Linked DNA regions of Homo sapiens: all the other regions are linked to region 1. The links come from fine-mapping of genetic effects on gene expression. A gene starts in region 1. Each other region holds a variant in brackets. All regions are shown on one strand. Distances are between the middles of the regions.

Evidence for each region. PIP is the estimated chance that this variant, and not a neighbour inherited with it, causes the effect.
Region 2: its variant is fine-mapped to the expression of FAM228A in vagina (GTEx, PIP 0.95).
Region 3: its variant is fine-mapped to the expression of FAM228A in tibial nerve (GTEx, PIP above 0.99).

Annotation. Positions count from the first base shown.
Region 1 is chr2:24,170,386-24,181,327 of GRCh38, forward strand. It overlaps FAM228A (family with sequence similarity 228 member A), which reads left to right and starts at 4,668. Exons shown (of 6, transcript NM_001040710.3): 1 at 4,668-4,789; 2 at 5,082-5,188; 3 at 7,417-7,485. The coding sequence starts at 5,096. It overlaps LOC105374328 (a long non-coding RNA gene), which reads right to left and starts at 4,411. Exons shown (of 4, transcript XR_939833.4): 1 at 4,123-4,411.
Region 2 is chr2:24,146,340-24,157,281 of GRCh38, forward strand. FAM228B (family with sequence similarity 228 member B) reads left to right here. Exons shown (of 11, transcript NM_001145710.2): 6 at 409-496; 7 at 591-747. Among named protein-coding and RNA genes, the nearest start is that of FAM228A, 23 kb to the right of the region's middle. The variant G/A (reference allele first, on the strand shown) is at 6,254.
Region 3 is chr2:24,059,004-24,069,945 of GRCh38, forward strand. FKBP1B (FKBP prolyl isomerase 1B) reads left to right here. Exons shown (of 4, transcript NM_004116.5): 3 at 1,811-1,923; 4 at 4,061-4,678. The coding sequence ends at 4,189. It overlaps SF3B6 (splicing factor 3b subunit 6), which reads right to left. Exons shown (of 4, transcript NM_016047.4): 3 at 9,318-9,456; 4 at 8,583-8,848. The coding sequence ends at 8,759. Among named protein-coding and RNA genes, the nearest start is that of SF3B6, 12 kb to the right of the region's middle. RefSeq lists an enhancer at 1,935-2,074. The variant G/A (reference allele first, on the strand shown) is at 5,725.

The DNA of each region.
Region 1 (10,942 bases):
GCCCTAGATTTCATATAAAAGACTGGCAGCAATGTTAATCCATCTGGAATTGCAATTCAGCAACCTACAGGATCAATTTATGAACTTGAGGGCCACAGATGGAATAAGATTTATTAAAAATAGTGGCCCTATATTTTAATGCCTTGCACATTCTGGCATCTGAGCTTTATATTATCTTGCTTTAAATTATCCATTTTTCTCTCATTCCATATTCCTCATCCTCTTTAAATTATTCTACCCTGACAGTTATCTAGTCTCCCAACATCTCACCCCTAATCAATATATGGTTCTAAGTGAAACTAGATTTTCTTTCTTTCTTTCTTTTTTTTTTTTTTTGAAACAGGGTCTCGTTCTGTTGCCCAGGCTGGAGTGCAGTGGCATGATCATGGCTCACTGCAGGCTGGACCTCCCAGGTTCAAGCAATTCTCCGCCTTTCAGCCTCCCGAGTAGCTACGACTACAGGTGTACGCCATCATGCCTGGCTAATTTTTTGTATTTTTTGTAGAGATGAGGTCTCACCATGTTGCCCAGGCTGATCTTGAACTCCTGGGCTCAAGCGATCCACCCGCCTCAGCCTCCCAAAGTGCTGGGATTACAAGCATGAGCCACTGCACCTGGCTGAAAACTAGATTTTTAAAACTTTATACTATGCACAATTTCAGAGAATTACAGAAAAAATAATTATAATTGTATAATGAATCCTTATGTTTCTGACATCCAGCTTCAATACTGATTACCTCATGTCCAGTCTTGTTTTGTGTATATGCATACCTACTTCTCAACCCTAACTGGATGACTTTGAAGCAAATCCCAGATGTCGTATCACAAATATAGTTGCTCATTCCACATGGTGAAGAGAAGATGCCTTTCCTTTCCCTGCACTTTGACACGAATACCAATTCCAAATATCTCACATTTCCTCTGAAGCCTTGTACTATTTCTGTATTATTTGAGATCATTTGTATTGCAAGTAACAAGCTAACCAGAGCTAACATAAGCACAAATGGTCCCTGGTGGTCTAGTGGTTGGGATTAAAAAAAAAAATTTCATTGAAAGAGTGCCAAAGCATCTTACAGAACCCTGAGAAAAAACTGAATTCCACAGGAATGGCAGGAACCTTGACAGCACTGGCCCCTGAGCAGCAGGCATCTCAGACCCTTCTAGGCTGTTGTCATGAACGTGACTCACAACACCTTTCCAAGTCTCTGTTTTGGTTAGACGTCTATAATCCTAGAAGAAAGACAGGAGAATCTGATCCTAGACTTGGGTCAGGTGTACACTCCTTGACCAATTAGCCACAGAGAAGAACAGGGAGGTGCTGCCATCGAGTCCACCTCTGGCCAGGTGAAGTGGCTCACGCCTGTAATCCCAGCACTTTGGGAGGCCGAGGAGGGTGGATCACCTGAGGTTAGGAGTTTGAGACCAGCCTGACCAAAATGGCAAAAGCCCATCTCTACTAAAAATACAAAAATTAGCTGGGCATGGTAGGGGGGCACCTGCAAGCCTAGCTACTCAGAAAAGCTGAGGCGGGAGAATCGCTTGAACCCAGGACGGGGAGGCTGCAGTAAGCCAAGATTGCGCCACTGCACTCCAGCCTGGGCAATAGAGCAAGAGACGCCATCTCAAAAAAAAAAAAAAAAAGTCTACCTCTGTGAGTGGAGTCAGGGATTTGCCAGAGATGGGACCACGCAGGCATCTCTAATCCACCATGTGGAGCAAGGAGGCCAGGAATCACTGAAGAAAGCTGAGCCCAAAAAGACAGGCAGGAATCTTACAGGTCATGCTAAAGCGTTTGGAATTTATGGGGAGACCCTGAAGGATTTTATAATACTCTAGTTCTTGGCATTTTTTCCCTTTTATATTACTTCATCAGTCAAAACAGACTTCTAGAAATCACATCAGCATTAAAGGGATATTGTTACTTCACCTTGACTTTTTATAGAAGGAGAAAAGTCTCGGTAAATCAGTTCTGTTCCATGAATCAGTCATTACTGCCTTCTCCATAGCCTTTCCTTCGTTCAAGTAAATTTAGAAATTTCTTAAGTTTTCTTTATAACAGGTAGCCTAAATCTATATCATACTTTTAAAATAAAAATCTAGGTGCAAATTTGTTCTTATGGTTAAGGTTAACATGTACACTTCACAAACATTGAGACTTTTGTTTTGTTTTCTGGGACAAGGTCTTGTTCTGTCTCCCAGCTGGAGTGGATACAAGCATGGCTTGCTTCAGCCTCAACCTCCCGGACTCAAGTGATCCTCCCACCTCAGCTTCCTGAGTAGCTGGGACTACAGGTGCCTGCCACCATGCCCAGCTAATTTTTAAACGTTTTGTAGAGACGCGGTCCCATTGTGTTGCCCAGGCTGGTCTTGAACACCTGGCCTCAAGCGATCCTCCTACCTCGGCCTCCCAAAGTGCTGGGATTACATGCATGAGCCACCATGACTGGCCTAGACTTTTTGATTTAAAGAGACTTTTTGGATAGAAATGCTTTTCTCTATTACAGTTATAAATGACTAAAAATACTAGCTATGCCAAAATGGCAACCAGAGGCCGACTGCAAAGCTTCAAAAGGCTTGATGCTCTCCTGGTAGACAAGTCTTCAGTCTCTTAAATGTTTTTTTCATATGTTGACATTGAAATTTCATTTTGTGTAGATGTTGGGATTATGTCTCATTCATTTATTTATTCATCATTCACTTAGTAAGTATTTAAGTGCCTGTTTTTCCCAGGTGCTCTGCCAGGTTCTGGGGATATAAGGATGAGCCAACATAGGCTCTCTGCCCTAAAGTTAGTGGGAGAAACAGTAACAAAAGATTTTAATACTATGAGATTAACTGACTTAGTTGTGGTATGTAGAAAGAGACACAGAGCCTGCAGCAAGAGCCTAGGTGAAGACTCAGTGAAGCACTACCTATTGAAAGGAGAATCTTTCAAATCCTTAACAGTTATTTTCACCATGTAAAAAAGGCGACATTGCCAGGGAACATCAAGTAAAGAGACAAATGCTCAGGTAAGCTTTTAAATCATATGAGATTGAAATAAGTTGATTCAGTAAATCAGGGAAACTTTTATTTTCAAATGAAGTAAGGAAGAAGCTAGGTAGAAATTAAAAATCCTATTTTGTATCACCTTTTGCTTATACTTAATGTAGTTTAAGCCATCAGTATATTATACTTTTCTGTGTATGTCGTCTACTCAACAGGAATTTTCTGTTCGCCTGCTATTTGGGTCAGTCATAGATGGTCCCATGTTATGAGAAAGATGTAAAGATGAGATAGATTCAGCTCCTTTTCTCGAGAAGATTATACCATATAAGGAAGTAATTTGCTGAATGGTCTCTCAGTTAGCCTGACTAGAATCTCTAAATCATGGTCTACACAGCAGTAATGAGGAACTTTGGCCCCTCAAGTGTCAATGAAGGCCAACTGGGGCACCTGGATTCCTATCTCCATCTGGCAGTAATGAGGTGGTAACCTCATTAACCCTGTTAGATTGGTGTTGGAGAAAGCCAGCTAAAACAGAAAGTTTAAATAAGATCCAGAGTCTCATAATATAAACTGAAAATGTTCAGACTTCAATAGAGACCAGCACTGAGATGACAAAGATGTTAGAATAAGCTCACAGACTTTTAAAGTTGCTATGAGAAAACTGCTTCAATGAGCAAATATGGATACACTTGAAGCAAATGAAAAAATAAAAATCCTGAGCAAACAGGAGATACAAAGAAGAACCAGATGAAAATTGTAGAACTGAAAATTACAATAGCCAAAATAAAAAGCTCAGCAGTTAAGCTCAACAGTAGAATAGAGAAGATGGAGGAAAGAATCAGTGAGCTGGAAGATAGAACAATAAAAATTACCCAATCTTAAAAAATGAGAAAATAGACTGGGGGTGGAGGGAAGAAGAGAGGCTTAAGTGGCTGTGGGGGCTATAATAATATTCATGTCATCAGAATCCCAGAAGGACGAGAGAAACAGGCAGGACTAAAAAACATACTTGAAGAAACATTGGCTGAAAACAGAGTAATCCTTGTAGTGGTGTCCTGATACACCTGATACAAGATAATATCCTGTATCTTGACTGTAGCTATGTCAAATCTTGGTTGTGATAATGTACCATACCTTAAACTATTAACAATAATTCTAGATATCATTAAATTTGTAGTCAGAGTTTTCGCATTTTCCTGATTGGCCCAAATGTTTTGAAGTCGGTTTCTTCACATCAGAATCCAAACCAGGTCCACCTGTGGCACCTTCACCCTTCAGTGGGAGTAAGGAGCCGGACGCGTCACTTAAAACCATTCCTCTTACGTTGTCACCCTCAATCTTACAGGTAAATGGCAAATTCTCTTTCGTATTAGTGTACATGCCTCGATAAAAGTCCAGAAGGGCGGCGGGGGCCTCGGCGGTTGAAGGCCCGCGTGCCCTGGCTCCTGCGAGGGGAGGGCGCCCCCGAGACAGACGTGGAGGGAGGGCGAGGGCCAGGCGCTGGGCTTCATCACTGCGTTTCCGTTTTCTGTGAAATCAAATGGCGCCTTTCCCTTTCCCGGGAAGTCGGTGTCACCGCCCGTTTGCTGTGAAATCAAATGGCGCCCTTCCTTTTCCCGGGACTTCGGCGTCACCGTCCAGCTGGCGTCGGGGCAGCACCCCGGGATCTGGCGTGGCGCATGCGCCCCGACGCTCGGGCCCGCGGGCTCCTTTCTCCGTCGCCGCTCCAGGACGCGGCCTCGGGGGAGCCCTACCGGGACGGAGCCGCGGGGCCTGCGACTTCCCCCGGAGCTGGCCTGAGGTGGGGCCCGGGGAGGCCTACGGGCCTGGGGGTCGCGGAGCCCAGGGAGGGCTGTGGCAGGGCCAGGGGGGCGCGCCCCGGAGGAAAGGCCCGCTTTGGCCCGAGGACGACACGGGAGTGGGTAGCCGGGCCTGTTGAAGCGCCTAGGGCGCCAAGGATCCCAGTTTGTTGGGTGACTCGGCTCAGCTTTTAGAAAGGGGCCGAGCGGGATTTGAACACTCCCTGAGCCCAAAGGCCTGGCTCTCAACGGTAACCGTCTTCCTCAGCCTCAGTTTACCTTTTCATCCCTCAGGGATTCTCCTGTCCATGGCTGCCACCAAAACTGCGAGTTATGATGAACATTTCAGGCCAGAAAAGTTAAGAGAATGGCCGGAGCCCGAGTCCGTTTCTTTAATGGAGGTGAGATAACGTGGCGTTTTGAGACGTCATTTTGGCGGGGGGACCCCTCGAGTTTGGGAACTGTTTATCTTAATTTCGCTTCTGTTCTCAGGATTGTGACAGTGCCTGCTTTAAAGCAGGCGTTGAAGGGGAATGTTCGGGCTCAGATTTGGCCGAGAGTGTGGCCAAGAGTGTTTCCAGTCGCCAGCCTGGGGGCTGGCGCACCGACGGGGGCGGGCAGCCGGGCGGGTGAAGGCAGCCACCCCAGCTCCCCGGCAGAAGCCAGGTCTGGGCTTGCCAGTCAATTCTGCATACTTCAGCGTCTGGTAATGATTTTCTCAAAAAGTTTCATTATTTTGTGTCATCCTATGATTTGCCTCGCTGTGAAAAACTCTTGGAAATTTCCTTTCTTTTTCCCCTTTTGCCCTAGTGGCGGTCGGAGCAGTGAGATGCTTAATTTTTCTATGTGTGTGCACAGAAAGCTGTGGATTTCGAAAAGTGCTGCTGCAAATCATGACCTTTTCCTTATATTTCCTGGCAAAATCACAAAGAAGAGCCATCAAAGACAAAAACTGTTTAATTTCTTTAAACAAAGATTATTTGAGAATCTGACTCAAGAATGTACATAACATTTGTTAACAATCTTACTAGGATGTTCTTTAAGAAGGTGACTTCCCAAGATGCTTGTCAATATGTTCTGCTTCTCCAAATAAATAAATAGATTCTAAATTTTTATTGTAGTGTCAGGATACATGTTTAATTGTTTTACATACTTTTTCAGTTGCCATCTTCATTTTAATTAAAAAAAATATTTTAGAGACAGGTTCTTGCTCTGTAGCCCAGGCTGGGGTGCAGTGGCCCAATCATAGCTCTCTGTAACCTCAGACTCCTGGGCTCAAGTAATTCTCCTGCCTGGGCCTTCAGAGCACTAGGATTACAGGCGTGAGCCACCCTGCCTGGCCTGTCTTCTTAAAATAAGTCTGAGAAGGCTTTAAAGCAAGATCCTGTTCCTATTACAAAGAGAGCTTTATTTTAGGAAGACCTGGGCAGCTGTTTGAATATCATTTTAGATCTCATGTGAAGCTATTAAATATGTGGGTAAAAAGAACAACTTTCCTTTTTTGAGATTTCTCTTATTCACAGATTTGGTATTTGAGTTTGGGGTTTAGTTTGTTGTGATGCATTCAGTGTGGCAGAATAGAAAGAAGAATCAGAAATTGAATAACAGTTCTAAGAACCTGTATCATTTTTCATCAGCAATAATTTTTAATGTAACAATTTATCTCTTCCAGATACTGGATTTTCATTGCCTTTTCATTTGTTCACACTTAGTCCTATAAGAATAAAAGCTAGAGATTAGTGCATAGTGATCCAACTGAAAAAGCCCTAAAGTGGGGATTAAAATGCATCAGCTTTACCCAAACTCATAATGGAAATAGCAAGTCCCTAGATGTGGATGATGTTGTTTGGAGGCCATGAGCTCTCACTAATTAGCTCTGAGATTCTGGACCAGTTGAACTAAAGGGAACTTTCTGTGGTTTTTGACTTATGAAGAGATCTAGCAAAAGGCGGGAAACTTCAAGGGCCCTTTAAGACACACCTACTAGCTGGGTGGGGTGGCTCACGCCTATAATCTCAGCACTTTGGGAGGCCAAGGTGGGTGGATCACTTGAGGTCAGGAGTTCGAGAGCAGCCTGGCCAACATGGTGAAACTCTGTCTCTACTAAAAACACAGAAATTAGCCAGCTGTGGTGTCATGTGCCTGTAATCCCAGCTACTTGGGAGGCTGAGGCAGGAGAATCACTTGAACCTGGAGGGCGGAGGTTACAGTGAGCCAGGATTATACCACTGCCCTGCAGCCTGGGTGACAGCCAGACTTTGTCTCAAAAAGCAAGCAAACAAAAAACACCTACTGAATGCCTGAAAAGAGGATTCCTTTAGTAAGCTTTTTAGTGCTTTAAAACGTAATTTAATAATATGCTATCAGGGATTTTTTTTAAATAGTCTGGGTGGGGGGGTGCTGAAAAATGAGTAGGGATTTATTGGATGAAATAAGATTGACTTGGAATTAATCACTCGAGCCTGGCTGACAAGTTCACAGAGAATGGGTTTAGAAATTTTCCATATTTTTATGTTACCAAATAAGCCTCAAGATTTACACTAAAACTATTGGTAAAGTACACTGAGTTTTGTCATTGTAGTTTGTTTCTTCAGGATTCACATCTTAATATTCAATTCTGTAATTTTAGGTATTAGCTAGAGAAGACATTGATGAAGCAGTATGTGCAATATTATTTAAAGAAAATTCCATTGTGAAGGTAAGAGTTGGCTCCACGCTGCATTCTACATATGTTCTAGGGGAGCAAGAGTGTGCAGAACAACATGGCCAAGAGTTTATGTCACCGTGATCCAAGAGACTCATTTTGCAGGAGTAATGAGGATCCTCTAATTTACTTGTTTGTACTACATGCATCTGAGGCCATGCCCCCTTCTTGCAGGATCACTAAAAGGTCCCTGATCCCACTTGGATCTGTCCTGAAGGGATCTGAGAAGTTGTTCCAATTGCTCCTTCTCTTCGTCCTGGTACCGAATAGAAATTCTTTCCTACTCACACTTGCCTCTTTCTCATATGTTCCCACATTGCAGTAAAACCACTAGAAACAAAATAAGCTTTTAAGGGTTATGACCAATCAGTAACTGATAGTCACTACGAAATTAGCTTAAGGGGCATTTAATTTCAATGAGAGAGACGGAGTTATAATAATACTTTGGGAGGCTGAAGCAAGAGTATTGCTTGAAACCAGGAGTTTGAGAGTTTGAGACCAGCCTGGGCAACATAGTGAGGCCCTGTCACTACAAAAAAATTAAAAAATTAGCCAGACATGGTGGCACACGCCTGTAGTCCCAGCTACTCAGGAGGCTGAGGCAGGAGGATTGCTTGAGCTCAGGAGGTTGGGGCTGTAGTGAACTGTGATCATGCCACTATACTCCAGCCTGGGTGACAGAGTGAGACCCTGTCTTTTAAACAAAAAAGAATAAAACTTTGACATTTGAATTGTGATTTACAATGTGTAAAGAAAGTGCACATAAATTCCCATTTAAGCATCCAAAGAGGTAGATGGGATTACCTCTCTTTCACAGGCCAGAGAGAGGTGTCAAAGTCTAGTGCGCTTTCTACTCTACCAGTTTTGTCCCAGACTTTCCTGATGGTGAAGGCTAGACACAGAGTGGGTGACCAGGGAATGCTTGGAAATCCTGAAAAAGAAACAAGAGTTTCATGAGTTAGGAATAGCTTAATCTGATTCATGAGTTAGATGTGGTTAAATCTGAAGGCACAGTTATGGTTTAGAAGTTTATATGAGTTCTTCTGCTCTGTGTTCCCAGCTTCTCTTACTGCACTTTATTCTGTGCTTCAGTTATCTTATACTGGGACTTTGCAACCCGAATGTGGCTGAGAGCTTAGTAGAGAGAACAAATTTTTTTTTCCCCCTTACTCGAATGATAGTAAATGAAACATTTCTTTATAATTTATTTTCCTTTTTTGTATCACTTCACTAGAGATTGGATATGTATTTTCAGCATGTGGATACTTTTAAGGAAAGAAGAAAAGAGATGTTACATAAAAAATGGGTTGAAAATGTTGCAGAGCCTCTTCAGCAGAGAATTATGGAAAAAGTAATTTCATATAAAGAGCTTAAAATGAAACGAGAATGTTGAATATTATTTACAGCACAGACATAAAATGGTACTGATGTTTTATTTTTCAAATAGAGTATAATTTGAAGAGTTGGTCTAACAATTTCACTGGTTATACAAATAGTTTCCAGCTTATTTTTATATTTAAGATGAGTTCATTGAATTGTAACACACGTATTGCATTCTTAAGCCTGAGGTTGGAGGGGATAGGAGTGTTGATTTGGAACTAGATTTATCAGGAATGATTTTTATGTAGACGTTAATGGAGTTACTGTGGCTTAAACCATAAGGGCATTTACTTCACAAGAAATTAAGAGGTAGGTGGTCTCGTGGTGGGTTCTGACAGCATAACAATGTCAGGTTTTTTCCTATTCTGTTCTGCTATCCTTAGTATTTTCAGTTTATCCCCATCATTCTCACATTTGCCTGATGGTTGCTTATAGCTCCAGACATTAGGTCTTCATTCAGGGCAGGAGGAAGGGGTAAGGAATGGTGCCAGGGGCCTCTTCTCTTACCCTACTCCTTTGCAGGAAGCAAAAAGAGTCCCCAGAGGCCCCTAGCCAACTTTCCCTTAGGTCTCATTGGCCAGGACTGGGTCATGAAGCAAGTCCTAGCCATAAGCAGGGCCTGGAAAGCCACTGTGGCTTTCTCATCTCTCTAGTAGGAAGTGGGCAGAGGAGAATGGTATTGCATGGCTGACTTAGCCAACCAGTAGGTATTAGGACTAACAGTTTCTATACTCTGTTCTACAGTTTGGCTTTACAAAAATTTGGTTTCTTAATTTAGAGATTTTTTTTTATTTTGAGGTCAGCTCTCAGAATTTGGGTCTCTCTATTTGCAGTATCAAATACAAATCTGTTAGCTTTAGGTGTGCACTACTGGATCTTTCTTACCCCCACATATCTAGTAGATATCTAGAGTAGTGGCTGGGTGCAGTGGGTCACCCCTGTAATCCCAGCACTTTGGGAGGCTGAGGTGGATGGATTGCTTGAGTCCAGGAGTTCAAGACCAGCCTGGGCAACATGGCAAAAACCCGTCTGTACAAAAAAAAAAAAAGCCCAGGTGTGGTTCTGTGCACTTGTAGTCCCAGCTACTTGGGAGGTTGAGGTGGGAGGATCACTTGAGCCTGGGAGGCGGAGGTTGCAGTGAGCCATGATCGTGTCACTGCAGTCCATCCTGAGTGACAGTGAGACCCTAGAGTAGGTTAGCTGAAATATTAGAACATTTAAGTATATTTACTGAGCACAATTTCTGAATATTTACCTTAAATACTTTTTCCTACACACTCTTAAGGGGCAGAGCTCAAGATTGAATCCAGATCTCCAAAGTGCAAAGTCTTATATTTGTGTCCAGAAATGTGATTTCATGGGTATAGGGAGGAAGATCTTAGAAATGGCATGTGTTGAAGTCCAAGTAATTTTAAATGTCAGTAAAGTCGTTGTGAATCAACCATATGAGCTGGATTCCAAGAAAACATACATCTCTCAGGCAAGAGAGGCTGTGCTTAGAGTGGGAAGCATCAGAGTCTTGGTCTATCCTGTCCTTAACCTGTCATTCCTGATGTCACACTGTTGAAGGGACCCTCATCAGTTGCAAAACCTTTAGAAAAGAGTTGAGTCTTGACACCACTTTATAGGAAGAAAACTGGAAAGAGGTGGGGTATTTGGCCCAAGGAAATGACACGAGGGGGAATGAACCTTTTAAGTATTTTAAAGGCCGACATTAGCCGATGAATTAGATGTGTAGAACTAGTGTCTGTACCTGCAAGTTACAAGGCAGATTTAAACTCAACCTAAGGACGGACTTTCTTGAGGTTAAAATTACCAAAAAAAGTACCTGCCTCATGGAGCAGAAAGTTCTGAAAGGCCCATGGATGACTTTAGACTAAAGCTAGATGATTACTTCTCCCAGAAGGTGGTGGAGTCTCATTGCAGTCCAAACTACTTCAGCAGTTTCTTCCAACCCTTTGAAGCTATGCTTTTATATAAAAATGAAATGCAGTATTTGGCTTTTATAATATGAATCTTGCAAAACAGTTTGTATCTAGTGATTTTTCCCTTAAGTATATTTTATATCTGA
Region 2 (10,942 bases), 24 kb before region 1:
TGAATAACTTGGTTAAGTTTTGAGTAATGTTAGTTATGTTGTTGATTATCAATGTTAGGGATTAAGATGAATATATGGATATATTTTTTCTTTTGTGCATGGGAAAGGAATTTTTAAAATTTGGGAACATATGGTAACAACAAAATAATTTTTGAAGATTGAACCCACACTTTGAAACAAGAGCTAACTTTGTCTCTTTGACTGGAGGGCCTTTAAGAGAGGTATTGATATACCCCCATCTCTTTGTAATATATTAAATAAATATAATGGTAAGCCTGCTATTTGTAAATACCATATTATTTACCCTCCCGGCATAAGAGCCATCCATATGTGGATGCTTAGAATAGACTGAAAATGTTTACTACTCAGACTTGCAACTCAGTGCTTAAACAAGTGCCTCTCTTGTAGGTTACCATCCCACCATTTCATGACCCTTTGAAAAAAGCACAATATGACAAGGATAACGAAAAAAGAACTCTTCTTCAGTGTGAGACTGGTACTTAGTTCCTAATTGTTATGTGATTTCATAGCCCAAGAGCAATGGCAGATGCATTTAAGGATGTTAATTTAGATTTTTATTCTTCCTTCAGGCAAAATATATTCAATAAAGGAATTCAAAGAAGTTGAGAAGGTTCAGCTGCATTCCAGATTCCCACAAATTTCTAATTCAAGGCACTTTATAACTCCAAACGAGTGGCTGAAACTGCCTACAAGATACATAGAAAGTGAATTTTGTAGAAGGAGAAGGTAATGGTTAATATACTAGAAATTATAGAACCTTTTGGACTTTGAAAATTCTTCAGACTGATATAACATTTTTCATAGTTATGATTTTTTAAAATTATCATTTTTCTTTTTTTTTGAGACAGAGTCTCACTCTGAAAATTTCATTTTTCAATGAAAAATCCATAATTCTTATCTTTGTTTCTCTGTATGTGATGTTTCTTTTTTCTTGGGTACTTTCAAGATTTTCTGTTTCTCTTTGGTTTTCATTAGCTAGATTATGATCTGTTTATATTTGTTTTTTTCTGTCTATCTTAATGTTCTCTGAGGTTCTCATATGTGTGGTTTTATGTCTTTTATTATTTTGGGGAAATCCTAGGCCATTATCACTTCAAATATTTCTTATTTCCTGTTCTGTCTACTTTTTTTCTTCCTCCTGAGACTCCAATTATATGTATATTAGATCACTTGATGATGTCTCACAGTGCCATAGCTCTTACTCTGTTCTGATTTTCCACTCTTTTTTTCCTTATTTGTTTTTCAGTTGGATGATTTCTGACTTGTTTTTAAGTTCACTGCCCTTCCTTAGCTGTGTCCTGTGCCCATCAAAGGAACTCTTCATCTTTGATATCATGATTTTCAAATTTCTAGCATTACCATTTGAATTTTTAGATAGTTTTTATTTATTCTGAAATTCTTCATCTGTTCATGCATGTTGTCCACCTTTTCCACTAGATTCTTTACCATATTAATAATTTAAAACTCCCTATCTGGTAGTTCTAATGTTAGGGTCATTTATGAATCTAGTTCTCTTGATTGCTTTATCTCTTGACAATGGCTTGTTTTGCCTTGCCTTTTTTTTTTTTTTTTGCATGTCTTGTAATTTTTTATTGAATGCCAGATATTTGATGTAGAAGAATGGTGTACATGGAGTATTTATGTCTAGAAATGGATATGCCTCTTCTTCTGTCAAGCATTAGTGTGGAGGATTAGCCTTATCTAGTTGGAATTGAGTTGGGTTTGGGTAATGTTATTGCTATTGTTACCTTTAGTGCATCACAGGCTTGAATACCTCCAGTGGTTAGGCTGCTTTTCCTTGTGCTTAGAGTGCGGGTGGGGTGCCAGAGGGATTTTCTCAAGTGTTTCTGCTCCTTCCTCAGTTTTCAGCTATCCATGCAAGCTGGCATCATAGAAGTGGAGGGGTATTCTCTCCATGCTCTTCCCTCTCCCACGGGAGTATACCACTGTTGCATGTTGCTTATTGCAAGGCTTCTAGTGGACGCAGAGGAATATCCCATGTTTTTCTCATGGAGCTTCAGTTTTAGACAAGCCCTATGTGCTTAGGCCTCAGAAGCAGGACTTTCCTGAGGTTCCTTTTCCTTATCCTTGTGGCAGCCAAACTTGACCTTGTATCTGTGGTTGTTCTTGGATGGCAGTGTCCTGTCTGTCTTCCAACGACAGCAAGATTTCTGCTTAGTATAGGAATAGGAGTCTTGATACCTTTTTTTTTAATTTGTAAATTTAATTTTTGTAGGTACATAGTAGGTGTATATATTTATGAGGTACATGAGATGTTTTGATACAGGCATGCAATTCATAATAGTCACATAATGTAAAATGAGGTATCCATCCCCTCAATGATTTATTCTTCATGTTACAAAGAATCTAATTATACCCTTTTAGTTATTTTTAAATGTATGTTAAAGTGTTATTGACTATAGTCCCCTTGTTGTGCTATCATATACGAGGTCTTATTCATTCCTTCTATTTTTTTGTCCCCATTAACCCCATCCCTACTTACCCTTTACCCTCCCAATACACTTCCCAGCCTCTGGTAACCATCCTTCCGCTCTGCATCTCCATGAGTTCGATTGTTTTGATTTTTAGATCCCACAAATAAGTGATAACATATGATGTTTGTCTTTCTGTGCATGGTTTATTTCACTTAGCACAATAACCTCCAGTTCCATCCATATTGTTGCTAATAACAGGGTCTCATTCTTTTTTATGGCTGAATATTACTCCATTGCGTGTAAGTGCATTTTCTTTATCCATTCATCTGTTGATGGACATTGAGGTTGCTTCCAAATCTTGGCTAATGTGAACAATGCTGCAGCAAACATGGGAGTGCAGATATCTTTTCAATAGACTGATTTCCTTTCTTTTGAGTGTGTACACAACAGTGGGATTGCTGAATCACGTGGTAGGTCTATTTTTAGTTTTTTGAGGCTCCTCCAAACTGTTCTCCATAGTAGTTGTACCCATTTACATTCCCACCAACAGTGTGCAAGCATTCCCTTTTCTCTACGTCTTTGCCAGCATTTGTTATTGCCTGACTTTTGGATATAAGCCATTTTAACTGGGAAGAGATGATAACTCATTGTAGTTTTTTTTTCTTCTTCTTTTTTTGAGACAGAGTCTTGCTTTATCGCCCAGGTCAGAGTGCAGTGGCCCCCACCTCCCAGGTTCAAGCAATTCTCCTGTCTCAGCCTCCTGAGTAGCTGTGACTACAGGCACATGCCACCACACCCAGCTGATTTTTGTATTTTTAGTAGAGACGGGGTTTCACCATATTGGTCAGGCTGGTCTCAAACTCCTGATCTCAGGTGATCCACCCACTTCAGCCTCCCAAAGTGCTGGGATTACAGGTGTAAGCCACTGCGCCCGGCTTGTTGGTTGATTTGTAATAAGGCTTTTCTTCTCTCAAAAATCTAATGCCATAGTATTGGTTTCTGTGTGTATTGGGAGTGTGAGCCACTGCACCTGGCCTGCTTTCTTTCTTTTTATTTTTTGTAAATCTGTTACTGGTTTTTTGATTTGCGGTTACCATGAGGCTTGTAAATGCTATCTTGTAACCCATTATTTTTAACTGATGACAACTTAAGACTGATTGCATATACAAACGCACAAAAAGAAAACTAGTGAAAACTTTAAACTTTGTCTCCCTGCTTTTTAACTTCTTGTTGTTCCTCTTTGTGTCTTATTATACTATTTTTTGAAAAGTTGTTGTAATTATTTTTGATTGGTTCATCATTTAGTCTTTCTATTTAATAAGATAAGAGTATTTGCACACCACCATTGCAGTGTTATATTATTCTGTGCTTTTCTCTGTGCTTACTATCACCAGTGAGTTTTGTATCTTGAGATGATTTCTTCTTGCTCATTAACATCCCTTTCTTTCAGATTAAAGAACTCCCTTTAGCATTTCATATAGGATAGGTTTGGTGTTGATGAAATCCCTCAGCTTTTGTTTGTCTGGAAAGGTCTTTATTTCTCCTTCATGCTTGAAGGATATTTTTTTTTCTGGATAATACTATTCTAGGGTAAAAGTTTTTTTCTGTCAGCACTTTATTTCTTTATTTTATTTTATTATTATTTTTTTGAGACAGAGTCTCACTGTCACCCAGGCTGGAGTGCAGTGGCATAATCTCGGCTCACTGCAACCTCTGCCTCCCAGGTTCCAGTGATTCTTGTGCCTCAGCCTCCCAAGTAGCTGGGATTACAGCTGTGCACCACCATACCCAGCTAATTTTTGTATTTTTAATAGCGATGGGGTTTCTCCACATTGGCCAGGCTGGTCTTGAACTCCTGACCTCAAGTGATCCACCTGCTTCAGCCTCCCAAAATCCTCGGATTACAGGCATGAGCCACCATGTCTGGCCATGTCAGCACTTTAAATATGTCATGCCACTCTCTCCTGGCCTGTAAGGTTTCCACTGAAAAGTCTGCTGCCAGATGTGGTGGAGCTCCATTGTATGTTATTTGTTTCTTTCCTCTTGATGCTTTTAGGATCCTTTCTTTATTCTTGATCTTTAGGTGTTTGATTATTAAATGCCTAGAGGTAGTCTTCTTTGGGTTAAATCTGCTTGATGTTCTATTACTTTCTTCTACTTGAATGTTGATATCTTTCTCTAGACTTGGGAAGTTCTCTGTTATTATCCCTTTGAATAAACTTTCTACTTCTATATCTATCTCCCCTGTAAGGCCAATAACTCTTAGATTTGCACTTTTGAGGCTATTTCCTGATCTTACAGATGTGCTTCATTGTTTTTTATTCTTTTTTTCTTTTGTCTCCTCTGAATGTCTATTTTCAAATAGCCTGTCTTCAAGCTCACTAATACATTTTTCTGTTTGATAAATTCTGCTATTAAAAGACTCTGATGTATTCTTCAGCATGTCAGTTGCATTTTTCAACTATAGAATTTCTGCTTGTTTTGTTTTTTGTTTTTTGTTTTTTTTTTTGAGACAGAGTCTTGCTCTGTCACCCAGGGTCCATGGAGTGCAGTGGTGTGATCTTGGCTCACTGCAACCTCTGCCTCTTGGGTTAAGGTGATTCTCATGCCTCAGCCTCCTGAGTAGCTGGGACTACAGGCACCCACCACCACGTCCGGCTAATTTTTTGTATTTTTATTAGAGATGGGGTTTCACCATGTTGGCCAGGCTGGTCTCAAACTCCTGACGTCAGGTGATCCACCCGCCTTGGCCTCCCAAAGTTCTGGGAATACAGGCATGAGCCACTGCACCCGGCCTCATTATGAGATTTTTTGGTGATTTTTTTTTTTTTTTTAGCTCATTAGCTATCATTAATGTTAGTGTATTTTATGTGTTTCTGTGTGGCCCAAGACAATTTTTTTTTTTGAGTCGGAGTCTTGCTCTGTCCCCCAGGCTGCAGTGCAGTGGTGCAATCTCGGCTCACTGTAACCTCCGCCTCCTGGGTTCAGGCGATTCTCCTGCCTCAGTTCCCTGACTTAGCTGGTATTGCAGGCATGCACCATCACACCTGGCTAATTTTTGTATTTTTATTTTTATTTATTTATTTATTTTGAGACAGAGTCTCGCTCTGTCAGCCAGGCTGGAGTGCAGTGGCATGATCTCAGCTCACTGCAACCTCCCTCTCCCGGACTCAAGCAATTCTCCTGCCTCAGCCTCCCGAGTAGCTGGGATTACAGATGTGTGCCACCATGCCTGGCTAATTTTTCTATTTTTAGTAGAGACAGGGTTTCACCATGTTGGCCAGGCTGGTCTCAATCTCCTGACCTCAGGTAATCTGCCTGCCTCAGCCTCCCAAAGTGCTGGGATTACAGGCATGAGCCACCACGCCCAGACAATTCTTTGTAATTATTTCAATTTCTTTGTTAAATTTATCTGATAGAATTCTGAATTCCTTCTCTGTGTTATCATGAATTTCTTTGAGTTTCTTCAGAATAGCTATTTTGAATTCTCTGTTTGAAAGGTCATATATCTCTGTTTCTCCAGGATTGGTCCCTAGTGCCTTGTTCAGTTCATTTGGTATGTCTATATTTTCCTGGATGGTGTTGATGCTTATAGATATTCATCAGTGTCTGAGCATTGAAGAGTTAGGTAATGTAGTCTTTACATTCTGGGTTTGTCCTTCTTGGGAAGGCTTTCCAGGTGTTTGAAGGGATTTGGGCCCCAAGCCCAATAATACTGTGGTTTTTGCAGACTCATAGAGGTATTGCCTTTGTGGACTTTGATAAGATCCAGAAGAGTTATCTGGTTACTAGGCAGA[G/A]ACTCCTGATATTTACCCCCACCTTCTCCCAAACAAACAGTCTCTCTCTCTGTGCTGAGCCACCTGGAGCTGGGGGTGTCATGATGCAAGCACCCCTGTGGCCACCATTACTGGTGCCGCATTGGGTCAGACCTGAAGACGTCTAGTATAGCACCGAGTCTTGCACAAGGCCCTTCCCTTCAGGGTGTGAGTTCCCCAGGTCCCAGGCATGTCCAGAGATGCTGTCTGGGAGCCAGGGCTTGAAGTAAAAAAAACCTTAGCAGTTTACCTGATGGTCTTTTCTACTGCAGCTCAGCTGGCATTCACACCACAGTACAAAATCCTTCCCACTCTTCCCTCCCCTTTACACAGGCAGAGAATCCTCTCCCTGTGGCCACCACCACCACTGGTCTATGGGGATTCTGCCAGGTCACCACCGATGTTTACTTAAAGCCCAAGAGCTCTTCCCTTCAGCTTGTGGTGAATGCTGCCAGGCCTGGGACTCACCCTTCAGGGCAATGGACTCCCATTTGGTTGAGGGCAGGTCCAGAAATGCGGTCCAAGAGCCCAGGCCCAGACTCAGGGACCCAAAAAGCCTGCTTGTTGCTCTATCCTACTATGACTGAGCTGGGACCTAAGGTGCAAAACAAAGTTCCCTTTCCTCTTTCCTCTGTTTTTCTCAAACAGAAGGCGTCTTTCACCATAGCCACCACAGCTAGGAATGTTCTGGGTCACTGCTGAAGCCAGCACATCTCAGAATCCAGAGCCCCCAGTATACTCCCTGGGTATCGCTGCTGCTGGTTTTCAGGGCCCAAGGGCTCCTTAGTCAGCAGGTGATGAATCCTGCCAGGGTTGGGTCCTTCCCTTCAAGGCAGCAGATTCCCTTTTGGCCCAGAATGTGTCTAGAAATGTCGTCCCAAAGCTAGGGCCTGGAATGGGGACCGCAGGACCCTGCCTGCTATTCTATCCTGCTGTGGCTGAGCTGGTATCCGAGATGCAGGACAAAGTCCTCTTTATTCTTCACTCTCCTCCCTTTAAGCAGAAGGAAGGTGTCACCTTTGGAGTTGCTGCAAGCTGCACTGCCTGGGGTTGGGAGAGGGATGGTGCAAGCACTCCCTTAGCCATGCCAGCTGGTGTCTCCCTAGGTCACGTGCCACCCTAGTTTTCTGGCTCTGAGCTCAGCCCAACATGAGGAATTGCCTAGGAATTACAGTCCTTGTTCCTAGACTGCCTTTCAAATTTACCTAGGAGCCCAGGGTACTTCAGCCCACAATGGTGAGGCTTGTGGAGAAACTCAAGTTCCAATCACTGGGATGGGCACTTTCCCTCTGGCTAAGGCTGGTCCAAATGTTGGCTTCCTGAGCGGGTGCTGGCTGAGCCCAGCATGGCTTTATTCTCTGTTGTGACAGGGCAGAACCGAATTCAGCATAAGTCCCCTACTCACTGGGCTCACCCTCCCCAAATGTACAAACTCTCTCTCTGTACCACACGGCTATGACTGGGGAATAGGAGAGAGGTGGCATCAGTGATTCAAGACTGTCCCTCCTGCTCTCCTCATGCCTCTTTTAGTGATATGAAGTTAAAACGAGGTACTGTGATTGCTCACCTGATTTTTGGTTTTGGTGATGGTGCTTTTCTGTGTGCAGATAGATGTTCAAATTTGTTGTTCCAGTGCGGGGAATAAAGGGTGTAAGCTTCTATTCTGCCATCTTGCTCTGCCTCCAGCATCTTTTCATATGTTTCTTTGCCATATACTATTTTCACATGTTTTTTTGCCATCTGTCTGTCTTCTTTGGTGAGGTGTCTGTTGTTCAGATCATTTGATCATTTTTAAAATGGGTTGTTTGTTTTCTTATTGTTGAGTGTTAAGAATCCTTCGTATATTTTGAATGTAAGTCCCTTATCAGGTATATATTTTGCAAATAATTTCTCTCAGCCTATGGCTTATCTTTTCATTCTCTTAACAGTGTCTTTTGCAGAGCACACATTTTAAATTTTAATAAAGTCCAGCTAATCATCAATGTTTTTCTTTTTTTATCTGAGGATGAGAGCATGAGAGGAAAAAGAGAAGAAGCCACCCTTTCCTCTCATGTTCTACCAAAGGCGAAGCAGGTTTTGTGTCCTGCCTCTCGTGGGAGGGACTTGTCTTTGGAATTCAGTTTACTTCTTTGCCTTGAAATCTGATGGGCTCAATAAAAGTTATGTTTTTGTAGATTATCTGGCCTTTTTTTGCCCTTGGGGTGAGAGCACCATTATTTCTAGAGCATCATTATTTCTATTTTAGGATGCTTTCTACATCCCAAATGGAAGCAGAACTAAAATCATTTCATTTGTTATTTTTAAAAAGTGGCCACAAATGGCATTGTGAATGTTACATAAGACAGAAATAAACCTTAAAACAGAATTTCGAAACAATGGCTGTTACTTTTTTTCTTTGTCTACTTTGAGCATCATAATCCTAGCTCTAGTAATTAAATAGGTTCCATCCAAACCAGGAGTCTATTTATAATAGGTTTAACTCTGATGGTATATTAAGATGATGATATTTAGAATATTGATTTTATAGTGAGCAATTAATGGGCATACAGTGATAATAGGTTTAACTCTGATCATGTAGTAAGATGATATTTAGAATATTGATTTTGTAGTGAGCAAATCACATTAATGGGCATACAGTGAGTTCCAGTCACACTGTTTGTTTCCACCCTTACTTACTTATTAATGACCACCATTAATGACTGGTGGTCATTAATGTGATAAAGAAAATGTCCTTTTTAGATGATTGTCAGATTATCTTCTATGACCTCATACTTCTCTAGCCTTATGGGGGCTGGCGTGTTTGCGGGTGACTGGCTTCTTCTATGAGCCCTTTTACTGAATCTTAGTCTTTACACACTAAGCAAGTGTGTGCCAGAAGTCATTGAAGACCATGCATATATATATATATATATATATATATATTTTTTTTTTTTTTTTTTTTTTTTTTGAGATGGATTTTCGCGCCTGTTGCTCAGGTTGGATTGCAGTGGCCTGATCTTGGCTCACTGCAACCTCTGCCTCCCCAGTTCAAGCAATTCTCCTGCCTCAGCCTCCCGAGCAGCTGGGATTACAGGCATCCGCCACCACGCCCGGCTAATTTTTGTATTTTTGTTAGAGACAGGGTTTCACCGTGTTGGCCAGGCTGGTCTCGAACTCCTGACCTCAGGTGATCCGCTGCCTTGGCCTCCCAAAGTGCTGGGATTACAGGCGTGAGCCACTGCACCCGGCCACCATGCTCATATTTTTATTTCTTATAGAGGAATTTCCTATATATCCTATAGAGGAACAGCTTCTCTTCAATATATTTTTCAAATTTTGAGGATAATTGTGATGCCACTTTTCAGTCTCCAGCCTGAACACTTGGGGTCCACATCCCATAGCCTTATGTAGAAGGTGCTGATGGGGCCAGGAGTCTGAGATTGGGAAGAAGCTCAAGTGCTTAACGACTAAGACAGTTCTGGAATGCTGGAATGTCTTCAGAAGACTGTAGCAAGATGTGTGTGCCTTCTGTGTTCCGGTCACAAATATTCAATTGTCTATTTTCCACACATAAGTCAAATTCAACCTATCCAAAAGTGAGCGAGTCGTGCTTGTCATCTTTTGCATCTAACTTGCTTTTTTTGTGTTCCTGGTTATGGGAAATATCAGGGTTCTTCTTTATTGCTCATTATCCCTTTACTTAATCCAGCACTGGGCTCTGTCATATCCATTCCTAAATCTCCTTCTAATTTGCCCCTTCTGGCCAGGCGTGGTGGCTCACACCTGTAATCCCAGCATTTTGGGAGGCTGAAGCAGGTAGATCACCGGAGGTCAGGAGTTTGAGACCAACCTGGCCAACATGGTGAAATCCCGTCTCTACTAAAAATACAAAAAATCAGCCAGGCATGGTGGCACAAACCAGTGATCCCAGCTACTGTGGAGGCTGAGGCAGGAGAATCGCTTGAACCCTGGAGGCAGAGGTTGCAGTGAGCCGAGATCGGGCCATTGCACTCCAGCCTGGGCAACAAGAGCAAAACTCCATCTCAAAAATAATAAAAATAATAATAATTTGCCCCTTCCTAAACATTCCCATAAACCAAATTCCCATTCTCATGTCCAATCTATAATAACATTTATTATTTATTGAGCTCTGATGTACCAGACACTGTTATACATTTCTTTCCGCCCCCCCCCCCCCAGCTTTTTGTTTCATTTATCTTTTGTATTTTTTGTTTGTTTGTTTGTTTCAATTTCATTTAGTTCTGCTCTGATCTCTTTATTTCTCTTCTGCCGGGTTTGGGTTTGGATGGTTCTTGTTTCTCAGGTTCTGTAAGGTGTGGACTTAGATTGTCTGTTTGTGCTCTTTCAGTCTTTGTGATGTAGGCTTTCCTTTTAGCACTTCTGCTGTACCCCAGAGGTTATGATAGGTTGTGTCACTATTATCCTTCAGTTCAAAGACTTTTTAAATTTCTATCTTGATTTCATTGTTGACCCAATGATTACTCAGGAGCAGGCTATTTAGTTTCCATGTATTTGCATGGTTTTGAGGGTTCCTTTTGGAGTTGATTTCCAATTTTATTCCACTGTGGTCTGAGAGAGTACTTGATATAATTTTGATTTTCTTAAATTTACTGACACTTGTTTTGTGGCCTATTATATGGTCTATCTTGGAGAACATTTTATGTGCTGATG
Region 3 (10,942 bases), 110 kb before region 1:
TGCTCCTACACTAAGCTGGCCCTGCTTCCTATGTTAAATATGACACATCTGAGGCCCTGGGAGAGGAAGTGATTTGCCCAGTCTCACACAATGAGTTAGAGCCAGAGTGAAGTCAAAACCCAGTCTCTGGATGTACAAGCAAGGTCTTTTTCTAGTCCCAAATGGCCTTTTGTGGTGGTCCAGGGACTGCCGGGAGCAGTCGTGGAACTGCATCATTTACAGAAGGTCTGATCTTTGAGTCAGAGTCACAGAAGAATTGAGAATAGCTGTTGGGCCTTGGGCTGCTGGACTGAGATGACATGTGGACATCAGGATGACAAGGCTTCTGAAGCAGAGGCTGGGGGAACCAGAACTGCTGGACCAGCACCTGGGGGGGGGTTCTGGTTTCAAACAGCCCTCTTAGTACAGAGTCTGGAGGCCACCTCTGACCAGCTAGGTCACCTTACACTGTTCCCTACAGTAGGGGATAATGTAACCTTTGGGTTTTCCCTTTTGGGGGAAACTTAGGAAACCTTAGGAACCTTATGCGAGGACTCAACCTGAGGCTGGAATAGCTGGGAAAACAGAACTTTAGGTGGAGGAAGTGGCATAAAAAAGTTGAAAAGTCTGGCTGGGCATGATAGCTCACACCTGTAATCCCAGCACTTTGGGAGGCTGAGGTGGGCAGATCACCTGAGGTCAGGAGTTCGAGACCAGCCTGGCCAACATAGCAAAACCCCATCTCTACTAAAAATATAAAAAAATTAGCAGGCATAGTGGCAGGTACCTGTAGTCCCAGCTACTCAGGAAGCTGAGGCAGGAGAATCCCTTGAACCCGGGAGGCGGAGGTTGCAGTGAACCGAGATCACACCACTGCACTCCAGCCTGGGCAACAGAGGGAGACTCCGACTCAAAAAAAAAAAAAAAAAAAAAAAAGTTGAAAAGTGCAGAGGAATTTGAGAAAGGTATGACCTGAAAAGGACACAGAGGGAAGGGAAGGAAGGGGAGAACAGAGAGGGTTATAAGCAGGCCAGAGCCGGATTGTGAAGTGCCTGTATGCAAGGTAGGCATTTGGATTCTGCTCTGGGGAGCTATTGAAGTATTTTGAGCAGGGGAGTAATAGAATCAGATTTGTGTTTAAAGAAAAAAAAAAATCAGTCTGGATGCCAAGTGGACAATGAAATGGAGGCGAGTAAAAGAGGATCAAAAAGACCAGTTAGGAGGTTGTTCCTGTGTACAGGTGAGATAAGCTGGTGACTTGGTCGTGGTAATAGAAACAAAGAAAAGGCCAGGCACAGTGGCTCATGCTTGTAATCCCAGCACTTTGGGAGGCCAAGGTGGGTGGATCACCTGCAGTTCAGGAGTTCAAGACCAGCCTAGCCAATATGGCAAAACCCTGTTTCTACTAAAAATACAAAAATCAGCTGAGTGTGGTGGTGGGCGCCTGTAATGCCAGCTACCTGGGAGGCTGAGGCAGAAGAATCGATTGAACCCAGGAGATGGAGGTTGCAGTGAGCCGAGATTGTGCCACTGCACTCCAGCCTGGGTGACAAATTGAGATTCTGTCTCAAATAAATAAATAAATAAATAAAAATAGAAATGAAGAAAATAGGTGGATTCCAAAGATATGGAGGACTTAGTGATAGGCAGTATGTGGGGGTGAGGCAGAAGGAAGTGTCCAGATTTCCTGCTTGGGCAACAGGATGGATGGGGAGGATCGGAAGAGGAGCAGGTGTGTGCAGAAAAGGCATTCCATTTTAGACATGTGGAATCTGAATTGGGAGTTTACTCATGACCACAGCTCTATTGCACCCGATTCTTGCTTTGACAGGAATGCTCCAAAATGGGAAGAAGTTTGATTCATCCAGAGACAGAAACAAACCTTTCAAGTTCAGAATTGGCAAACAGGAAGTCATCAAAGGTTTTGAAGAGGGTGCAGCCCAGGTAGGATGAGGATTCGCATTAAAGGGGATCTGGGGAGTTGGGGATCTGGGATCAGCACTCTGCCCTCCACCTCCACCTTCACCCACTCACAGACCACTACTGCTTTGACTCTACAGCCAGGGCATGGCAACGCCATCTGGTGTCCCCTCCTGGCTTTGCGTCCCCACCCCTCTCCTTGCCAGCATACCTCTTTTGTGTCCCTGGGGGCTCTCATCCCAAGCACATCCCCCTAGGCTTGCTCAGAACTAGCTGAGAGAGCCAGGCACGGTGGCTCACACCTGTAATCCCAGCACTTTGGGAGGCCGAATGGGGTGGATCAGTTGAGGCCAGGAGTTCAAGACTAGCCTCACCAACATGGTGTAACCCCGTCCCTGCTGAAAATACAGGCGTGGTGGTGCATGCCTGTAATCCCAGCTACTTGGGAGGCTGCGACAGGAGAATTACTTGAACCGGGGAGGTGAAGGTTGCAGTGAGCAGAGATTGTGCCACTGTACTCCAGCCCAGGCGATGGAGTGAGACTGTCTCAAAAAAACAAAACAAAAAAATAAACTAGCTGAGGTCTACCAGTTGCCTGGGACTGAGGTAGTGGAAGAGTTGGGGTGGAGTAGGCCAAGAAAATTTTTCGTTTTTTCGCTTTTTTGAAAAGAATTTCAGAATTACAAAAATATTAAAGAAATAGTACAGAGTTCTTCTATATTCTATCCAGCTTCCCCTTCTTGCATAACCATAGTACAATTATCAAAACCAGGACATTCACACTGATACAAATTACTTACTTATTCAAATTTTTGATTATTCAAAATTCAAAAGTAGATTTAAATTTCACCAATTGTCCCACTAATGCTGAGTGGGTTCTCAACAACTGCTGTGATGAGCCCTGGTTCAAGCTGTTCTTTCTTGGTCTGTCTGTGAAGTCCTATGATGCTCCCTTACGATAGGTCTTGTTTTTGGTGTTTTTTTTTAGAAAGAGTATCACTCTGTCACCAAGGCTGGACTGCAGTGGCGCAATCTTGGCTCACTGCAAGCTCCGCGTCCTGGGTTCACGCCATTCTTCTGCCTCAGCCTCCCTAGTAGCTGGGACTACAGGCGCCCGCCACCACGGCCGGCTAATTTTTTTGTATTTTTAGTAGAGACGGGGTTTCACCGTTGTTAGCCAAGATGGTCTCGGTCTCCTGACCTCGTGATCTGCCCGCCTCAGCCTCCCAAAGTGGTGCGAGCCACCGTGCCCGGCCTGTTTTTTGTTTTTTATTTATTTATTTATTTTGAGACGTAGTCTCACTCTGTTGCCCAGGCTAGAGTGCAGTGGCACAATCTCAGCTCACTGCAACCTCCTCCTCCCAGGTTCAAGCAATTTTCCTGCCCCAGCCTCCCGAGTAGCTGAGATTACAGGTGTGCACCATCACCATCACGCCTGGCTAATTTTTGTATTTTTAGTACAGACGGGGTCTCACCATGTTTGCCAGGCTGCTCTCGAACTCCTGACCTCAGGTGATCCACCTGCCTCGGCCTCCCAAAGTGCTGAGATTACAGGTGTGAGCCACCACGCCCGGACTTTTTGTATTTTTTAGTAGAGACAGGGTTTTGCCATATTAGCCAGGCTGGTCTTGAACTTCTGGACTCAAGTGATCTGCCCACCTTGGCTTCCCAAAAGTGCTGGGATTACAGGTGTGAGCCACCACGGTTGGCCACAATAGGTCCCCCTTGCCACCTTGCTGGTGACTCTAGTCTCTAAACCACTTTAAATAACTGCCCCTGTCACCTACTTGAGTATTTACGTGTGCTATTCATACACCCTCTTTTCCTAAAGAGGCCTATTCTTTGGAAGAGGGTGAACTATGAACAAATGGAAGTGTTTCAGTCATACACAAATTGAATAACCAGTAATGTTTGTCAGATGCATGAATTTGAGACCACTCTGTGAGGGTTACTGCCCCACAGTCACATCTCTGCTGAGGCAGAATCTGCGTTTGTTAAAGCTGTTAGCACGATTTCAATGTATCCCATGTAAAATTCATCTGAGATCTTCAGAGTTAACATTGAGGATGGTTTGGGAAAATGCCATAGTCATCTAACTTTTTTCTTTTAAATCAAGCTGGGTCCTCTTTCTCCTCTCCCCATCTGCCCCCATCCCTGCTAGATGAGCTTGGGGCAGAGGGCGAAGCTGACCTGCACCCCTGATGTGGCATATGGAGCCACGGGCCACCCCGGTGTCATCCCTCCCAATGCCACCCTCATCTTTGACGTGGAGCTGCTCAACTTAGAGTGAAGGCAGGAAGGAACTCAAGGTGGCTGGAGATGGCTGCTGCTCACCCTCCTAGCCTGCTCTGCCACTGGGACGGCTCCTGCTTTTGGGGCTCTTGATCAGTGTGCTAACCTCACTGCCTCATGGCATCATCCATTCTCTCTGCCCAAGTTGCTCTGTATGTGTTCGTCAGTGTTCATGCGAATTCTTGCTTGAGGAAACTTCGGTTGCAGATTGAAGCATTTCAGGTTGTGCATTTTGTGTGATGCATGTAGTAGCCTTTCCTGATGACAGAACACAGATCTCTTGTTCGCACAATCTACACTGCCTTACCTTCACTTAAACCACACACACAAGGTGCTCAGACATGAAATGTACATGGCGTACCGTACACAGAGGGACTTGAGCCAGTTACCTTTGCTGTCACTTTCTCTCTTATAAATTCTGTTAGCTGCTCACTTAAACAATGTCCTCTTTGAGAAAATGTAAAATAAAGGCTCTGTGCTTGACAAACTCCTGTCCATCCTTATTTTAGGTAGGAAGTGCTCTAAGGACCACACAAGCCAGGTGCCCTTGGGAAAGAGTGGAAAGAAAGGAGGGTTCCAAGTGGCTAGGTGAGTGATAAATATAATAGCTACAATGTGAGCATTTTACATGCTGGGCCTTGTTCTACATACTTTTTTATTTTATTTATTTATTTATTTATTTGAGATGGAGTCTCGCTCTGTCACTCAGGCTGGAATGCAGTGGCACAATCTTGGCTCACTGCAACCTCCGCCTCCTGGGTTCAAACGATTGTCATGCTCACCAGCACGCCTGGCTAATTTTTGTATTTTTAGTAGAGACAGGGTTTTGTCATATTGGCCAGGCTGGTCTCAAAACTCCTGACCTCAACTGATCTACCTGCCTTGGCCTCTCAAAGTGATGGGATTACAGGTGTGAGCCACTGTGCCTGGCTATATACTTTTAAATTATTACCATTGATCCTCTAAGCAACCCTGCACAGTAGATATTACCTGCCGCTCATCTCAGGCTCAGAATCCTCCTCTGCATAACTAAAGAAATATAGGCTCCAAATCTTGTAGCCTAGCAATCAGATGTGGGACTTGAGCACCTTATGTGCTCTTGCAATCTTTGTTTGGACTACAGCCAGAGGGATGAGCTCCACTCACCCAGATGGATACAGAACACTTTTTGTGTCTAAACAAATGAAGGTGTGTTAAGGGCTTGAAGTCGTACACTAACTCACATTGGGAAGTTCCTTGTGAAAAGAGTGTGTGATTCTGAGCTTGTTTTCACATACACTGCTTAGTTTCACCTAGATTTGTTCTGACTTACATTGAGGAATTACTTTTGAGAAGAATGTATGATTCTGAACTTGTTTCCACATATAGTGCTTATTTCATCAACATTTATTGTAACTAACCAGAAACACCAGTTAGGTTTTAAAATCAGCACACTTATTGGTGTAGGTTATATATAGGCCATAGGAGACTGAGGCAATATACTCAAACATTTTTCTTTTTTTTCTTTCTTTTTTTGAGACGGAGTCTCACTCT[G/A]TTGCCCAGGCTGAAGTGCAGTGGCATGATCTCGGCTCACTGCAAGCTCTGCCTCCCGGGTTCACACCATTCTTCTGCCTCAGCCTCCCGAGTAGCTGGGACTACAGGTGCCCACCACCACACCTGGCTAATTTTTTGTATTTTTAGTAGAGACGGAGTTTCACCATGTTAGCCAGGATGGTCTCAATCTCCTGACCTTATGATCCGCCTGCCTCGGCCTCCCAAAATGCTAGCATTACAGGTGTGAGCCATCACGCCCAGCCTCAAACATTTTTCTTTCAGTTGGTATAGGATGAGAAAAACTCCTGGCCATAGTTGGGGTTATTCTTTTTTTTTTTTAATCATTTATTTATTATTTTTAAAAAATAGAGATGGGGGAATCTCACTATGTTGCCCAGGCTGGTCTCAAACTCCTGGCCTCAAGCTATCTTCTCTCAGCCTCCCAAAGTGTTGGGATTATGGGTTTAAATCACTGCACTCAGCCAATACGGTTTTCTATCAGTGACGACTTCGAATTGTTTCAAGATTGAGGACGGAGGGGCTGATAACAGGTACTGTTAGTGTTCCTCATAGACCCACTGATACATGTCACATGATGTCATATATATGCTATGAGGCCATGTCATCTTGGCTACATGATCTACCTTTTTTGTCTCCAAGAAATCCTGGCTGTATTCCTTTGCTGAGGGTGGAGGAGCTAATGAAGAAGCAGTGCTTTAGGATGGAGAAAACGAGAGAAAGGAACTGCCTTGCATTTTAGTCACCAAAGTCCCTGTGCTCACCTCTATTGTGAGACTAGACCAGCCAGAGGGTATTTCCTTCAGAATGTCTTGGTTCCTGGCTTTCTTTGATGACTCAAATGCCTACAATAATTTCTCAGAAGTCAGCCTGCATAAAAGACATACGCATATTTTCTGCTGTGACACCAATAAGATAACAAAAGATGGCATCAAGGACTATTTCAGGTGCCCACTATGGGGCATATAAAAGATATTGGTCTAGAGTATTTATAACTGAGGTGGGTCAAAGGAGACACCCACTAAAAGAACTCCCCCAAAGTGCAAACACATACTGGCTAGCACCTGGAGAGGACAGGTGAGGCTCTGCAGGTAAACTGGGAAATGAACCATTTTACTGGAGCTCTTAAAAGATGATGCAGAAAATCATGATGCAGTATGCTAATGAGTCTGGACATTGGCCTATGAGAGCCACTAAAGCTGTTAAACAGAAGAGCAATAATAAGATCAAGGTCACATCAGTTGTTTTCAGACTTTCAGTCAATGAATTCTCTATTCCTACGAATTTTTTTCTTAGAAACTCAAAAATTTAACCCAGATGAAAGTAAAGCAGCTCTGGCACATGTGTGTGCACATATAAACACAGTCATCTGTTGCACTCTTAAAAGCATTTGAAAAATTGAGCTTTGGATGCCTTGCACAGAGGACCGATCATAATTATATCCTCAGCATCTTCGTACAGTACTGTGTGCAGAGTGGGAGTCAGTGTTTGTCCACTGAGTGCAAGTTCTTGTAACTTAATTGCGACAGGATATGGAATTTCCAAACAATTAGAGGGAAGTTTTAAGTCTTAACTTTAGGTCATGAAATTCAGCTAACAGATATATCAATCCAAATGATGGACTGGTCATGACTGCTAATAGAAGGAATTTCTCCTTGTTATTAAAACAACTACACCAGAGGCAAGCTAGCCTGCCACTTAGACAAATCACACTCTAAGTTTTAAAGTCTAATTTCAGTTTTTCTCTTACAAGAAAGTCTTTTAGAAAATTCTTTTTACATTACCTAAAGGCACACCGTGCATTACAAAAACTAATAATGCATTCATAAAAGCATTCAAAAGAAAATTACAGCTGTAGCTCCTTTCTTATCTTCCCACCCTTAGAAATGACTCTACTCTCTTACACTGCTTTCAAAAAACACTCAGATATAATTAAAAGCAGAATTGATGCTCTTTGTACATTGAAGTGATTCAGTGTATGTACCTTCAAATTGATTTTAGGTTCCAATCACACACAAAACAATTAGTCCATGTTTTTCCATTTGGTCCATGCCTAAGCAATAAAAAGCAAATTACGGCTATATTCTCCCAAGCTGCCATGATGATGAATGGGGTAATAACCATACTGTTTCCATGTCATGGGAACTCATGATAATAAGAATGAGCATTAAGTATTTATGGCAAAGATATATTATGAGCTAAGGTCCAATATACCTACAGATACTTAATAACTAAAGGAAAAGTCTACATAAATACAATCTTAGACATGTAACAACCAACGCCACTACCCAAGCAGCTTGCTCTCAAATTTCTACCAATGTGACAATTATTATGTACCCATAATAATTAAAAAACAATTTAAAGAGGCAAATCTAAGTTTCTAACAATGTACTATCATCTAAATGACCATTTCTATAATAGACCTCTGTTCTAAAGACAAGGGTACCCATATTGACACAGGTGTTTTGTTAACTATAAAGCAAGCATTATTCAAATGTAAAGGCTTGGTTAATAACTGGTTGTTATCACACCAGCTTTGTATGTTAGCATTTTATTCATTCAACCAACATCATGAACTTTGGTTTCCTCACCTGCAAAATGCAAATACCTATCTTCACTGAGTTGTTATGAAGATTTCATTATTAATGGACATGCAATAAACAGCAAGTTCCTTTGATGGCTAAGCACTGCACCGGGCCCTGGAGGCATTAAGAATGTAAAGAGATCCTGTTCTCAAGAAACTCAGAATCCCTAGGAGCACCTACAATTCTTGATAAGCTTCAACTGTTTTTTCCTGGTATCAAACAGGAAGGGAAAGTTCAAGAGAAAAGACTGAGGTGTTTCACAAAAAGCTACAAGTTTATTAACATAATGTATTCCAATATGTATCAAAGTTTCAAGCAGGTCATTTTGAACCTCAAATAAGAAATCACAATATTTAGTATTAATTAAAAAGGAAAAAAAGGTGGTAGTTGTCATTCGTGGGATTTAGTCCAAATGAAAATGTAGAAAACATTTATTTTGGTGGATCTGTGTTGATGCCATATTTCTCCTTGAGAAGCTTCAACTGTTCCTCCTTCTTCTTTGTGTCCATCTTCTGAAATGCCTGGAAATGTGGTAAGCACCAAAATTAAATTACCAATCTACAGCCAAATGAATTTCATCAATAGCATTAGCCAAAAAAGAAAGTCATAGTAGACATATATCATCACAGTACAGTTCTACACTAATTCTCTTGAGACGGAGTCTCTCTGTTGCCCAGGCTGGAGTGCAGTGGCGTGATCTTGGCTCACTGCAGGCTCCACCCCCTGGGGTTCACGCCATTCTCCTGCCTCAGCCTCCCGAGTAGCTGGGACTACAGGCGCCCGCCACCACGCCCGGCTAATTTTTTGTATTTTTAGTACAGACGGGGTTTCACCGTGTTAGCCAGGATGGTCTCGATCTCCTGACCTCGTGATCCGCCCACCTCGGCCTCCCAAAATGCTGGGATTACAGGCATGAGCCACCGCGCCCGGCCAGTTCTACACTAATTCTCAAATGAGATCACTACACAATGAGAACTTTGCTATACTTACCCTGTTGGCATTATAGTACAAAACCACAAGGTATCTGTTACAAACATTGAATCCCGATAGGTGATCACATGCATTCTTGGCATCAAAGATGTCCTCATAGACCACATAAGCTGTTCCTCTAGTTTCAGGTGTGTTCCCCCTGGAGAGGTAAGTTAAACTTAATTAAGATATACATTTACCTGAGCATTGATAGTTGACTTACAGAACTGTCTTTTAAACTGGTAACTGTCTTTTAAAAACAGTAAATTGAAATACGTTTTTAGTTAAGTATTTTGAAATCAACCTGAAACCATCAGAGGAAATAAACATGGATAGATATACCGGATAAGCCTGTAATTTCTTGAATTAGGTAATTTTGTTCTTCGTTTTTATCTTAACTAAAATATCCATAGGTCAAGCTGACTGTCACATCAGGAATACTAAGAACACAGCTACTACACAGAACAGCCTCGTGAGTTGTGGGGACTACAGGTGCTCTTGCCACCCTGACTGGCTCTACGTTGTCTTTGTTTTGTTTTGTTTTTGTTTTTGTTTTTGTTTTTTTGAGATAGACTCTCACTCTGTTGCCTAGGCTGGAGTGCAGTGGCACAATCTCAGCTCATTGCAACCTCTGCCTCTCAAGTTCAAGTGATTCTTGTGTCTCAGCCTCCCAAGTAGCTGGGACTGGAGGCATGTGCCACCATGCCCAGCTAATTTTTGTATTTTTAGTAGAGACAGGGTTTCATCATGTTCCCCAGGCTGGTCTTAAACTCCTGACTTCAAGTGATCCGCCTGCCTCAGCCTCCCAAGGTGTTGGAATTACAGGCATGAGCCACCACACCCGGTCTACATTCATTTTTAATACAACTCAAGTGCTAATGCACGATACAGCTGTGTGGCTAGGGAGAAGGGCTAGGCTTCTGCAAAGATGGGAGTGGAAGTGTGCTTGTGGATAGGGTTATCAGTGAGCCAGGGCAGAATGCTGGAAGGTGGCTGGAAGTGGAAGCTAACCTTACTTATGGATACGAGGTTGCTGTTAGTGTAGTTATTCCTGGCCACTTCCTTCCTTCACCTCACCAACTTCCTCTGGGAGAGGTAGAGAAGTTTGAGGAGCAACGCAACGCTAAATTGCAGGCAGCAGGTGGCCATGTGACTGTTAGTGGAGACAATGGGTAGAGGTCCCACTCAGTTCAGGCTCTGGGTGACAAGATGGCCCCCTTGCCTCCATCTGTGTTCCAACCACCCAGTGCAACTGTGGAATGAGGTTTAAGACTGTGGGCTGACTCTCCATCTGCCACAGTCCTTACATAGGGTTGAATAAAAGCAGTGGAGCCATGGGAAGAGGAGGTACCTGCCTAGACTTGATCTAGGATAGGACTATAGTCTGGGCCCTGTTCAAGCTTGTGCTTCCTGTAAAATTGAAAAGGAATAGGGTACTGGGGGTGATTGGAGGGTGCCACTGTCAATGAATGCGCTCACTTTGTCAGGTTGTGTGGGCCTGACGAGGGGTTTTAGAATGTTCTTTAGGCTCTGGCAAGTCTTAACAACTTTCAGACTTTTGACTTCTAAAAACTTAATAAGATTTTCAGTTCCTTAAGAGCAAAGGTGATCTTATGCGTACTTCATTTATTCCTTTAGTGCCACGC